Linked DNA regions of Homo sapiens. The protein of the gene in region 2 interacts with the protein of the main gene of each other region in a pairwise test. Each region holds a gene or a part of one and is shown on either strand. Other genes may lie near its edges.

The links.
Region 1: the proteins of ATF1 (region 2) and NFIL3 interact in binary tests that used the Homo sapiens proteins (3 or more experiments, as listed by UniProt).

What each region holds. Positions count from the first base shown.
Region 1 is NC_000009.12:91,408,517-91,413,841, reverse strand, and holds the end of NFIL3 (nuclear factor interleukin-3-regulated protein), read left to right. Parts: intron 1-2,661; exon of another isoform or gene 2,662-2,839; intron 2,840-2,935; 5' UTR 2,936-3,107; coding exon 3,108-4,496; 3' UTR 4,497-4,797; downstream 4,798-5,325.
Region 2 is NC_000012.12:50,767,086-50,774,122, reverse strand, and holds part of ATF1 (cyclic AMP-dependent transcription factor ATF-1), read right to left. Parts: exon of another isoform or gene 6,970-7,037; intron 675-6,969; exon of another isoform or gene 1-674.

The sequences.
Region 1 (5,325 bases), on a different chromosome or scaffold from region 2:
TAGTCTGCAAGGGATCATATGATGTTTAAAAACTAAAAGTGGAAAAAAGTAGTGGCCAAGAGTATAGTGGAGATTTGAAAGGTGCCTTGGGAAAGGTCAGTGCAATTGTCTTCTTTAACTGGGATATCTTCCTCTTTACTTCTCCACTCATTTTACTTTAGCAGGAGGACTTTGCTGAATGGCAGAGTGCAGACTTCAACAGAGGAAAGAATCCATTCAATATGTAAAGGAAACTGGGTTTTCATATTAGAGGACAAAACCTAAATGCAAATTAGAGGAAATAGTATTGTTGGCCGGGCGTGGTGGCTCATGCCTGTAATCCCAGCACTTTGGGAGTCCGAGGCAGGCAAATCACCTGAGATCAGGAGTTCAAGACCAGCCTGACCAACATGGTAAAATCCCGTCTCTACTAAAAATACAAAAAAATTAGCTGGGCGTGGTGGCGCGTAACTGTAACCCCAGCTACTCAGGAGGCTGAGGCAGGAGAGTCGCTTGAGCCTGGGAAGCAGAGGCTGCAGTGCACCAAGATTGCACCACTGCACTCTAGCCTGGGCAGCAGAGCGAGACTCTTATCAAAAAAAAAAAAGGAAATAATATTGTTTAAATGATAAATAGGAAGATTCCTTCTCTGCAACATCACTGCTGACTGTGACACACTCCTTGCCTTCATTTCCTATTAAAGTTTCATTACCAAAAAACAAACAGAAACTTGATATTAATAATCACAAATTTCTCTGAGTTACGACTAGCTGTTCCCTTAACTATGTTGGCTCAGTTTAATGGGCAAAAACCTGGCATGAAACATTATTCTTTATGATCCTGAAATTATTACATAATTCCTTTCATTCCCTGGAAAAGACAAAAGAAGCTGGCAGGCTTTTCCAATTGATAAAAGTAAACTTCATTTTATTAGTCATTATGAAACTAGGCGTAAGAAGGAGATAGTGGCATCATGTAAGAACATTACATCTTTTTTTTTTTTTTTTTTTGAGACGAAGTCTCGCTCTTGTCCCCCAGGCTGGAGTGCAATGGCGCGATCTTGGCTCACTGCAACCTCCGCCTCCTGGGTTCCTGGGTTCAAGCGATTCTCCTGCCTCAGCCTCCCGAGTAGCTGGGATTACAGGCGCCTGTCACCACACCCGACTAATTTTTGTATTTTTAGTAGAGACGGGGTTTCACCATGTTAGCCAGGCTGGTCTCGAACTCCTGACCTCAGGTGATCCGCCCACCTCGGCCTCCCAAAGTGCTGGGATTACAGGCATGAGCCACCACACCTGGCTCATTACATCTTTTTAGTAGGGTAGAATAAAGTGCCACTGTGTGCAGATCGTGCTGATGGAACTGTTGTACCATGTCTATTTAACGAAAAATATTACTGACTGGAACATTAGGCAGAGAATCAGTGTCTAGAAACACAGTTAAATTCAAAAGCCCCCATGCAATGATTGCTACTGGAACATAACATGGATTTTATTATCTCGAGCTAAGGCAACTGTCAGGCCAAATTTGTAGTGTAAGTATTTCATCAATGGAAGAGGAAACTAATGAATGATTCTATTTTTGAGTTGTTATATTTTACTTGAAACTAATTCATATAAATGAAAGAAATTTTTTTCTGTAACTATATTCTCTTGGTTTAAAAGAATTTCATTTCAAGAATGCACTATACTTTTAAAAACCCCCTTTGAATAGTAAGTGTTTTTTTGTTTTGTGTGGGGTTTTTTTTTTTTTTTTTTTTTTTTTGACAGAGTCTTGCTCTGTCACCAGGCTGGAGTGCAGTGGCGTGATCTCAGCTCACTGCAATCTCTGCCTCCCAGGTTCAAGCAATTCTCCTGCCTCAGCCTCCCGAGTAGCTGGGATTACAGGCACACACCACCACACCCAGCTAATTTTTGTATTTTTTAGTAGAGATGGGGTTTCACCATGTTGGCCAGGATGGTCTCGATCTCCTGACCTTGTGATCTGCCCGCTTCGGCCTACCAAAGTGCTGGGATTACAAGTGTGAGCCACCGTGCCCCGCCTAGTAACTGTTTTTTAGTTCAAAGCTACTATGTAACTGAAACCTGAAATCTATTTTGACAGAATTTTCAAGATCACAAAAAGCATTTTGGATACTTCAATCTTGAATGTTTGATAGAACAAATTCAAAGGAATCAGAAAAAAAAATTCTAATCTCTTAAACTCAGATGCTTGTAAAGAGATGGCTTGATGGAGAAGAATCCTTTTCATTTAGTTGCAGTGAGTCACCTGGTGGAATTTGCTGGGATATAAGCCTACCAGGCAGTCAAGGATGTGATGGGCAGGTTTATGTCCACGTTAAGGTGTAGATTAAAACCAACAGCTCCGTTGTTAATGTGGCTTTTACTTTAGTTTTTGTAGAAGAAGTTTGTCTCCATTTGTATTTTATTCCATATAGGAGTGCAGAACTTTTTTTTTACTCACGTTAAAGTTTACTTGGTAAAGTCCCTTTTAAGAGGTGAGCATATCTGCTTGGCAGTGATGTAAATATTAGGTAACATTATTTAGAAGCACCACGGTATGCATGTACTGTTTAGAAACTTACCAACCAGAGGCTATCTGTCATTTCCTTCCTGTAATTGCCCACACCCAACTATTTCTCCATTTCGCCTCATTAAATACAGCCTTCCTCTACTTCTCTCTGGGCAGAGGTTATTTTATTTTTCCCTCACTTTCCTGGATCACATATTCTCTTACTGATAGGCCTCATTAGGGATTTGTCCTTTACAGCTTTATAGTTTAGGTATTTGGGAACTTATTTCCTTTTTGAAAATGCTAACTTGTTGAAAGAAAGAACTGTGGCCATGCCTCATCTGTGCTTGTATGCCCTAAATGCTTAGCATATTTCCTTGTACATAATTTGTAATAAACATTTATCCAGTGAATAACTGGTTTTTTTTTTATTCATGTATTGCAGATAACGAAGGAGGCCCAACTTCATTCAATAAGGAGCCTGACGGATTTATCCCAGACGGTAGAACAAAAGGAAGAATATTGATGGATTTTAAACCAGAGTTTTTAAAGAGCTTGAGAATACGGGGAAATTAATTTGTTCTCCTACACACATAGATAGGGTAAGGTTGTTTCTGATGCAGCTGAGAAAAATGCAGACCGTCAAAAAGGAGCAGGCGTCTCTTGATGCCAGTAGCAATGTGGACAAGATGATGGTCCTTAATTCTGCTTTAACGGAAGTGTCAGAAGACTCCACAACAGGTGAGGAGCTGCTTCTCAGTGAAGGAAGTGTGGGGAAGAACAAATCTTCTGCATGTCGGAGGAAACGGGAATTCATTCCTGATGAAAAGAAAGATGCTATGTATTGGGAAAAAAGGCGGAAAAATAATGAAGCTGCCAAAAGATCTCGTGAGAAGCGTCGACTGAATGACCTGGTTTTAGAGAACAAACTAATTGCACTGGGAGAAGAAAACGCCACTTTAAAAGCTGAGCTGCTTTCACTAAAATTAAAGTTTGGTTTAATTAGCTCCACAGCATATGCTCAAGAGATTCAGAAACTCAGTAATTCTACAGCTGTGTACTTTCAAGATTACCAGACTTCCAAATCCAATGTGAGTTCATTTGTGGACGAGCACGAACCCTCGATGGTGTCAAGTAGTTGTATTTCTGTCATTAAACACTCTCCACAAAGCTCGCTGTCCGATGTTTCAGAAGTGTCCTCAGTAGAACACACGCAGGAGAGCTCTGTGCAGGGAAGCTGCAGAAGTCCTGAAAACAAGTTCCAGATTATCAAGCAAGAGCCGATGGAATTAGAGAGCTACACAAGGGAGCCAAGAGATGACCGAGGCTCTTACACAGCGTCCATCTATCAAAACTATATGGGGAATTCTTTCTCTGGGTACTCACACTCTCCCCCACTACTGCAAGTCAACCGATCCTCCAGCAACTCCCCGAGAACGTCGGAAACTGATGATGGTGTGGTAGGAAAGTCATCTGATGGAGAAGACGAGCAACAGGTCCCCAAGGGCCCCATCCATTCTCCAGTTGAACTCAAGCATGTGCATGCAACTGTGGTTAAAGTTCCAGAAGTGAATTCCTCTGCCTTGCCACACAAGCTCCGGATCAAAGCCAAAGCCATGCAGATCAAAGTAGAAGCCTTTGATAATGAATTTGAGGCCACGCAAAAACTTTCCTCACCTATTGACATGACATCTAAAAGACATTTCGAACTCGAAAAGCATAGTGCCCCAAGTATGGTACATTCTTCTCTTACTCCTTTCTCAGTGCAAGTGACTAACATTCAAGATTGGTCTCTCAAATCGGAGCACTGGCATCAAAAAGAACTGAGTGGCAAAACTCAGAATAGTTTCAAAACTGGAGTTGTTGAAATGAAAGACAGTGGCTACAAAGTTTCTGACCCAGAGAACTTGTATTTGAAGCAGGGGATAGCAAACTTATCTGCAGAGGTTGTCTCACTCAAGAGACTTATAGCCACACAACCAATCTCTGCTTCAGACTCTGGGTAAATTACTACTGAGTAAGAGCTGGGCATTTAGAAAGATGTCATTTGCAATAGAGCAGTCCATTTTGTATTATGCTGAATTTTCACTGGACCTGTGATGTCATTTCACTGTGATGTGCACATGTTGTCTGTTTGGTGTCTTTTTGTGCACAGATTATGATGAAGATTAGATTGTGTTATCACTCTGCCTGTGTATAGTCAGATAGTCCATGCGAAGGCTGTATATATTGAACATTATTTTTGTTGTTCTATTATAAAGTGTGTAAGTTACCAGTTTCAATAAAGGATTGGTGACAAACACAGAACTCCTGCTCCATTGCATTTGATTTGATGGAGAAGAAAAGTCAATTTAAGTTATAAAAATAAATATTAAGATATTTTACATTTTATATGAGAGAGTTTTCTCCCCTGAATAAGAGAAAACTGAAGTGCTAAGTTCAGCAAATAATTTGTTTTTCCAGGCTTCTAAAGAAAGAAAAATAACAGTGAATTTTCTTGCATTTGAGACTAATTCACTAAATTACTTTATATTATATATTTTTCTGTAAGATTATGTTTTCTCTATAATTTTCTTAAGTATAAAAATACAAGTTGTTTGGTAACAGCCTCTTCTTAGTTATCTACCCTTTAAGTATGACACATGGATGTGGATAGTTGAGTCACTGATGCATTTTATTAAAGTCTGTTTTAAAAGAGCAGATAAAGACTGAGGATGAGGCATTTTTATGTTATTATAAGTCTTAACAGTTCTAGAGTATAACAATCTAGGGAACTAAGCTAAACACTGTTTAGTTTCTAAAATTTCAAAGAACACGTCAATTACCACATGCCAA
Region 2 (7,037 bases):
GAAGCAAAGGTTGCAGTGAGCTGAGATAGTGCCAATGCACTCCAGCCTGGGCAACAAGAGTGAAACTCCATCTCCAAAAAAAGAAAAAAGAAAAGAAAACTTGCAAAGAAAGAAACATTATATGTTAGGCAATAAACTAAGAGCTTTTTAAGCTCAACATTACTGATCATTAGAGAAATGTAAATCAAAACCGCAATGAGATACCATCTCACGTCAGTCAAATGGCGATTACCGGCCTGGCATGGTGACTCACACCTGTAATCCTAGCGCTTTGGGAGATCGAGGCGGGCAGATCACTTGAGGTCAGGAGCTTGAGACCAGCCTGGCCAATATGGCAAAACCCCATTTCTACTAAAAATACAAAAATTAGCCAGGCGTGGTGGTGGGCACCTGTAGTCCCAGCTACTTGGAAGGCTGAGGCAGGAGAATCGCCTGAACCCAGGAGGCGGAAACGATGCAGTGAACAGAAATTGCACCACTGCACTCCAACGTGGGCAAGAGAGCAAGACTCAGTCTCAAGAAAAAAAAAAATAGCTGGCATCGTGGGTGACTGTGGTCCCAGCTACTTGGGAGGCTGCCCAGGAGGCGGAGGTTGTAGTGAGCCAAGATTGTGCCACTGCACTCTAACCTGGGCAATAGAATGAGACTTTGTCTCGAAAAAAAAAAAAAAAAAAAAAAGAATGGCAATTAAAAAGTCAACAGTTGGCGAGGTTTGGAGAATAAGGAATGCTTTTACGTTGTTGGTGGGAGTGTAAATTAGTTCAACCATTGTGGAAGACAGTGCAGCAATTTCTCAAAGACCTACAGGTAGAAATACCATTTGACCCAGCAATACCATTATTGGTATATACCCAAAGGAATATAAATCATTCTATTATAAAGATACATGCCCACATATGTTCACTGCAGCACTATTCACAATAGCAAAGACATGCAATCAACCCATATGCCCATCAATGAGAGACTGGATAAAGAACATGTACATATATATCATGGAATACTATGCAGCCATAAAAAGGAAAGAGATAATGTCCTCTGCAGGGTCATGGATGGAGCTGGAAGCTGTTATCCTCAGCAAACTAACAAAGGAACAGAACATCAAACACTGCATGTTCTCACTTATAAGTAGGAGCTGAATGGTGAGAACACGGGGACACATGGTGGGAGAACAACACACACTGGGGCCTGTGGAGGAGGGTGCGGTGGGGGAAGGGAGAGCATCAGGAAGAACAGCTAATGGATGCTGCGCTTAATACCTAGGTGATGGGTTGTTCTGTGCAGCAAACCATCATGGCACATGTTTACCTATGCAGTAAACCTGCACATCCTGTGCATGTACCCTGGAACTTAAAAGTTGAAGGGAAAAAAAAAGGCTAGGCGCACTCCAGCCTGGGTAACAAAGTGAGACACCCGTCTCTTAAAATAAAAGAGAGAGAGAGAGAGAGAAAAATATATTTAGACAGTTACCTCACCCCAGCTTTAGAAATGGGACAACTTGGCCAGGCACAGTGGGTCACACCTGTAATCCCAGAACTTTGGGAGGCCGAGGTGGGTGGATCACTTGAGGTCAGGAGTTCGAGACCAACCTGACCAACATGGTGAAACTCGGTCTCTACTAAAACTACAAAATTAGCCAGGGGTGGTGGCACATGCCTATAATCCCAGCTACTTGGGAGGCTGAGGAAGGAGAATCGCTTAAATCCAGGAGGCGTAGGTTGCGGTGAGCCGAGACCATGCCATTGCACTCCAGCCTGGGCAACAACAGTGAAACTCCATCTCAAAAAAGAAAAAAAAAAAAAAAAAAGGAATGGAGCAATTCAGGCACAACAAAACTTGCAAAAATATAGCCAAGTGCGATGGCTCATTCCTGTAATCCCAGCACTTTGGGAGACACTTTGTACCCTTAAGCGATAGGATCGCTTGAGCCCAGGAGTTTGAGACCAATCTGAGCAACACAGTGAGACGCTATTGTTACAGGACAGGGTCCCAATCCAGACCCCAACAGAGGGTTCTTGGATCTCGCACAAGAAATAATGGGTCAAGTCCACAGTGTGAAGTAAAAGCAAGTTTATTAAGAAAGTAAAGGAATAAAAGAACGGCTACTCCATAGACAGAGCAGCCCCGAGGGCTGCTGGTTGTCCATTTTTATGGTTATTTGTCGATGATATGCTAAACAAGGGGTGGATTTTTCATGCCTCCCCTTTTTAAACCATACAGGGTAACTTCCTGACTTTGCCATGGCATTTGTGAACTGTCATGGCGCTGGTGGGAGCACAGCAGTGACGACGACCAGAGGTCACTCTCGTGGCCATTTTGGTTTTGGTGGGTTTTGGCCGGCTCCTTTACTGCAACTGTTTTATCATCAAGGTCTTTATGACCTGTATTTTGTGCTGACCTCCTATCTCATCCCGTGACTTAGAATGCCTTAATCATCTGGGAATGCAGGCCAGTAGGTTTTAGCCTCATTTTACCCAGCCTGTTTAAGATGGAGTTGCTCTGGTTCATACGCCTCTGACATTTCCCCCCGTCTAAGAGAACCCTTAATCCTAAGGGTTGCAGAGGGACGAAGATCCATCTTCTATAACTTCTTCAGGCTAAATAGGGCAATGATATTCCTGCCTGCCTATGAGGGTCTCTTGCATTCAGGGTAAAAAGGAGCTCAGTCAGAAAGCATCAGTATGGTAAGGTTCATTCATAACTCAAGTTTCAACAAAAGGTGGTATCTGGAAAATTAGTAAGAAAACGTTCAGTAAGCTTGTCCTGTATTCCTACACAAAAAGTATAACAGCAATATATTCCACAAGAGTAAAGCAAAATAGGCTGGGTACAGTGGCTCACACCTGTAATCCAGCACTTTGGGAGGCCGAGGCAGGTGGATTACCTGAGGTCAGGAGTTCGAGGCCAGCCTGGCCAACATGGTGAAACCCTATCTCTACTAAAAATATAAAAGTCAGCTGGGCGTTGTGATGTGTGCCTGTAATTCTAGCTACTTGGGAGGCTGAGGCAGGAGAATCACTTGAACCCAGGAGGCGGAGGCTGCAGTGAGCCAAGATGGTGTCACTGCAGTCCAGCCTGGGCGACAGAACAAGACTCTGTCTCAAAAAGAAAGAAAGAAAAAAAAAAGAGTAAAGCAAAATAAGTAAAGTTATTCCAAATAAACTAAATTAGAAGACTTTTCATGAACCAGGCAACCACTGGAACTAAGCTGATATCGGGTTGTTAGCTGATTGTAATGTGCCCAGAATCAGAATACTGATCCAGATTTTTAAATTACCCATCCCTCTTATTTCTTCTGAGCAACAATTAGAGATTACTGGTTGGTTTACAAGAATACGCAGGGTTAGCCTAAATTGCAGAAACAAACTTAAAAACAATTAATGAGACCAGAATTTAATAACAAGTGTACCATAGTTTTTGAAACATAGTATTTCTCTCTCCAGTTTCCCATTTTTACTAAAGACAAATTATGGTAAGACTGACTTGCTTTATTATACTTGGCCTGATTGTTTGTATAAAGTGCAGCAAGAATAATAATTTTTCACATAGGCTTTTTAATTGGCTTTGATGGAACTCTGTTTCATAAGGAATCTCAGATAAGACTTTTTTAAAAGCCAAGCCCTGACATGGGTTTGTACCCTTAAATACCTATAACTTGGGTAAATTTCTCTCCTTTTGAGGTCCCAAGATAACTTGGGGCTCCTGGACAGGTGAGAAAGTGACATTCTTTACTTACCATAGGTCAGAAACCCTGTACAGGCACTGTGTAGGCAAGGTATGAGGCCAGTTCCCCAAAGGGCTTTTATTGGCTCTACAAGTCAAGTTTGATTCCTTAAAGAAAAGCACACCATTTCAGTCAAAGCCTTGGTAAAATAACCACTTTCTCCAATTGTATTCTGTTACAAAAGAAAACAGATTCTTATTGCACTTATGCAAATAATTACATTGCCATAAGTTAAGAATACTCACAACTAGTTTCCAAATTCTGGAGAAATCTGATATAGAGAAACAAATATGTTCCAAATTTCGTTCACAGCAGTATACTTTACTCAATTGCTATGAACTGTAAATAGCTCAAATGAAAAGTTTCCTTGACTCTGAAAAACAAAACAAAGGATCAGCAACATTTTAATCAAAGATTACTTCAGTTTTCTATTGGTTCAGTTGATTCAATTAACTCATGTTTCATTTGATATTCATGAACATTCTAGCTCTTCATGAGTTCTGAAAGTTGTTTCCTCTATTCTAATGTTACAATTTCCAAAGTTATTAGAAACCTGCATTTAAGAACACCTGCTAGAGTTCTATAGCTGATTATAAATCATCTTCTAAACAGGATTAAAACAAGACAACAATTGTCTGTGGATGATAAAAAGTTTTAGGAGAGCCACTATTAAAGCCAGAAATGATAAGGAAATTTGGTTACTTCTGTGGCACACAATATTTTGCATAACAATTATAATTATTAATAACATACACTAAATCATATTAGAATTATAGGAGTTTCCCATAACTTTGGAACATATACCAATAATACAGTTATGTAAATATAATCCAAAGAAAGCAAAACACCATTTGACATTTGATAATGCTTCCTGTATGAATTTTTTTTTTTTTTGAGATGGAGTCTCGCTCTGTCACCCAGGCTGGATAGAGTGCAGTGGTGCAATCTCAGATCACTGCAACCTCCCCCTCCCAGGTTCAAGCGCTTCTCCTGCCTCAGCCTCGAGTAGCTGTGACTACAGGTGTGCGCCACCATGCCCGGCTAACTTTTGTATTTTTTGATAGAGATGGGGTTTCACCATGTTGGCCAGACTGGTCTCAAACTCCTAACCTCAGGTGATCCATCTGCCTCGACCTCCCTAAGTGCTGGGATTACAGGTTTGAGCCACTGTGCCCGGCCAACTTAGAATAATTATTTAACTCTTTAGCCAAAAAACCCCACATTTCCATGCCTTCTTATAATCTTTTACCAAAAGTACATTCTATTTTCCTTACTACACACCTTACATGTAAAACTGTCTCTTCAATAGTCTCAGTTACATGTTCCAATTTTAACTTTTAGCGACTTTTACTTTTGGTGAAAACCCTGGTTAGTAAGCAATTTTAATTATGTACTAGGTGTGGAGCCTAGCCTAGGACACACCAGGCAGAAGTGCAGATAAGAGCTGACTCTCCAGCACAGCTTAGGGGCGTGGCTAACTCCACATGTCCCCAGGCCTTATCTAGAATCTAATGGCTTTAAGGTAGGGTAAATTGAACAATTTTTAAAAGTCAAAGAAACAGTTTATGACCTCAAATCATTTAACAAACTTAATATCTGACCTGCATAATTAAGATTAACATTTTTATCAATTTTAAAGATGTGTTTATTTCCTAAAGATTACTAAAGTTACATGAACTAAAAGGCATTAGTTATTTTGCTTTCAAAATATTTGATTTAAATGTTTATTTTTGTTTAAGCTGATTAATCAGAGCTCTTTTATATAAATATTACACACGACACCTATATAGCTACACAGAAAGACAGATGATGATGATAACAGTGGTTGTAAGATTTTTCATTTGCCAGTTTTTAAGTTTCTTAATTGGATTACCGGCTTCAGGGTGGAGCCCTTGGAAGAACAGGGCCACGAAAGGGGTCTCTGGTGCCTCTTGTTTTTCCCAAGGAGTCCAGGCTGTTAGAGCTTGAATATCCACTTTTAATTAAACTTATTTTAACCATAGCACTCTTTAATAAAGTCCTTTTAGAAGTTTTTATGCCAAACGGCTGGTATTTCTGGCTTTTGAATTTTATCAAAGGTAACCTCCCAGGTGCTTAGAAAAAGGAAAATATAAGACAGTTCACAGAGGAGAAGAGAATAGACAAAGTCATGCAGATATTAAACCAGAAACGACTTACTTCCTAGGTGGGTAATTGAACCTGGACTGTTGCCACGGAAGTGCAAAAGCTGGCTGGGTGCGGTGGCTCATGCCTGTAATCCCATCAGTTTAGGAGGCTGAGGCAGGTGGATCACCTGAGGTCAGGAGTTCGAGACCAGCCTGCCCAATATGATGAAACCCCATCTCTACTAAAAATACAAAAATTAGCTGGGCGTAGTGGCACACACCTGTAATCCCAGCTACTTGGGAAGATGACGCAGGCAAATCACTTGAACTCGGGAGGCGGAGGTTGCAGTGAGCTGAGATCGCACCACTGCACTCCAGCCTGGGCGACAGAGCAAGACTCCATCTCAAAAAAAAAAAAAAAGAAAGTGCAAAAGCTTAGCTACTGAGCTACAGCACAGGGCAGTCTCTGTTGACCTTCCCAGAAGGAGTCTAGAGTAGTTAATTTTGAGCTTATAAGGGCTTTTAACTATTTAATATTATTTTTAGAGCTAACTATGACATGAATCCTGAAATTCCTGTTCTCTGAAGGTGGGGACCAAAAGAAAGTACCACCACATGGTTAAAAGGTCAAGCTCCCAAGGACGTAAAACAAGGTGGAGACTTCATCCAGTCTTTTATTTGTTACAGGGACCTGCAGCCAAGTATCTTACTGACCAGCTTGCTGGGTCATCTTGAAAAGCGAGCTTACAGGTGTTCTTTTTTTTCTTTTTTTGAGATGGACATGGAGTCTCGCTCTGTTGCCAGGCTGGAGTGCAGTGGCACGATCTCGGCTCACTGCAACCTCCGCCTCCCGGGTTCAAGTGATTATCCTGCCTCAGCCTCCCAAGTAGCTGGGACTACAGGCGCACGCCACCACACCCAGCTAATTTTTTGTATTTTTAGTAGAGATAGGGTTTCACCATGTTGGCCACGGCTGGTCTCAAACTCCTGACCTCAGGGGATCCACCAGCCTCAGCCTCCCAAAGTGCTGGGATTACAGGCCTGAGCCACCGTGCCAGGCTGATTTTTTTTTTTTTAACCATTCACTTAACCATTTGTACAGTGAGAGAGAAGCCAGAAATCTGACTGGTAATACATTCTTACCCTTTTGCCAGCATCCCAGGCTTCTGGGTTCCCTTTCCCTTAGTGGTCCTAGTGTTCAAGCTTGCAGC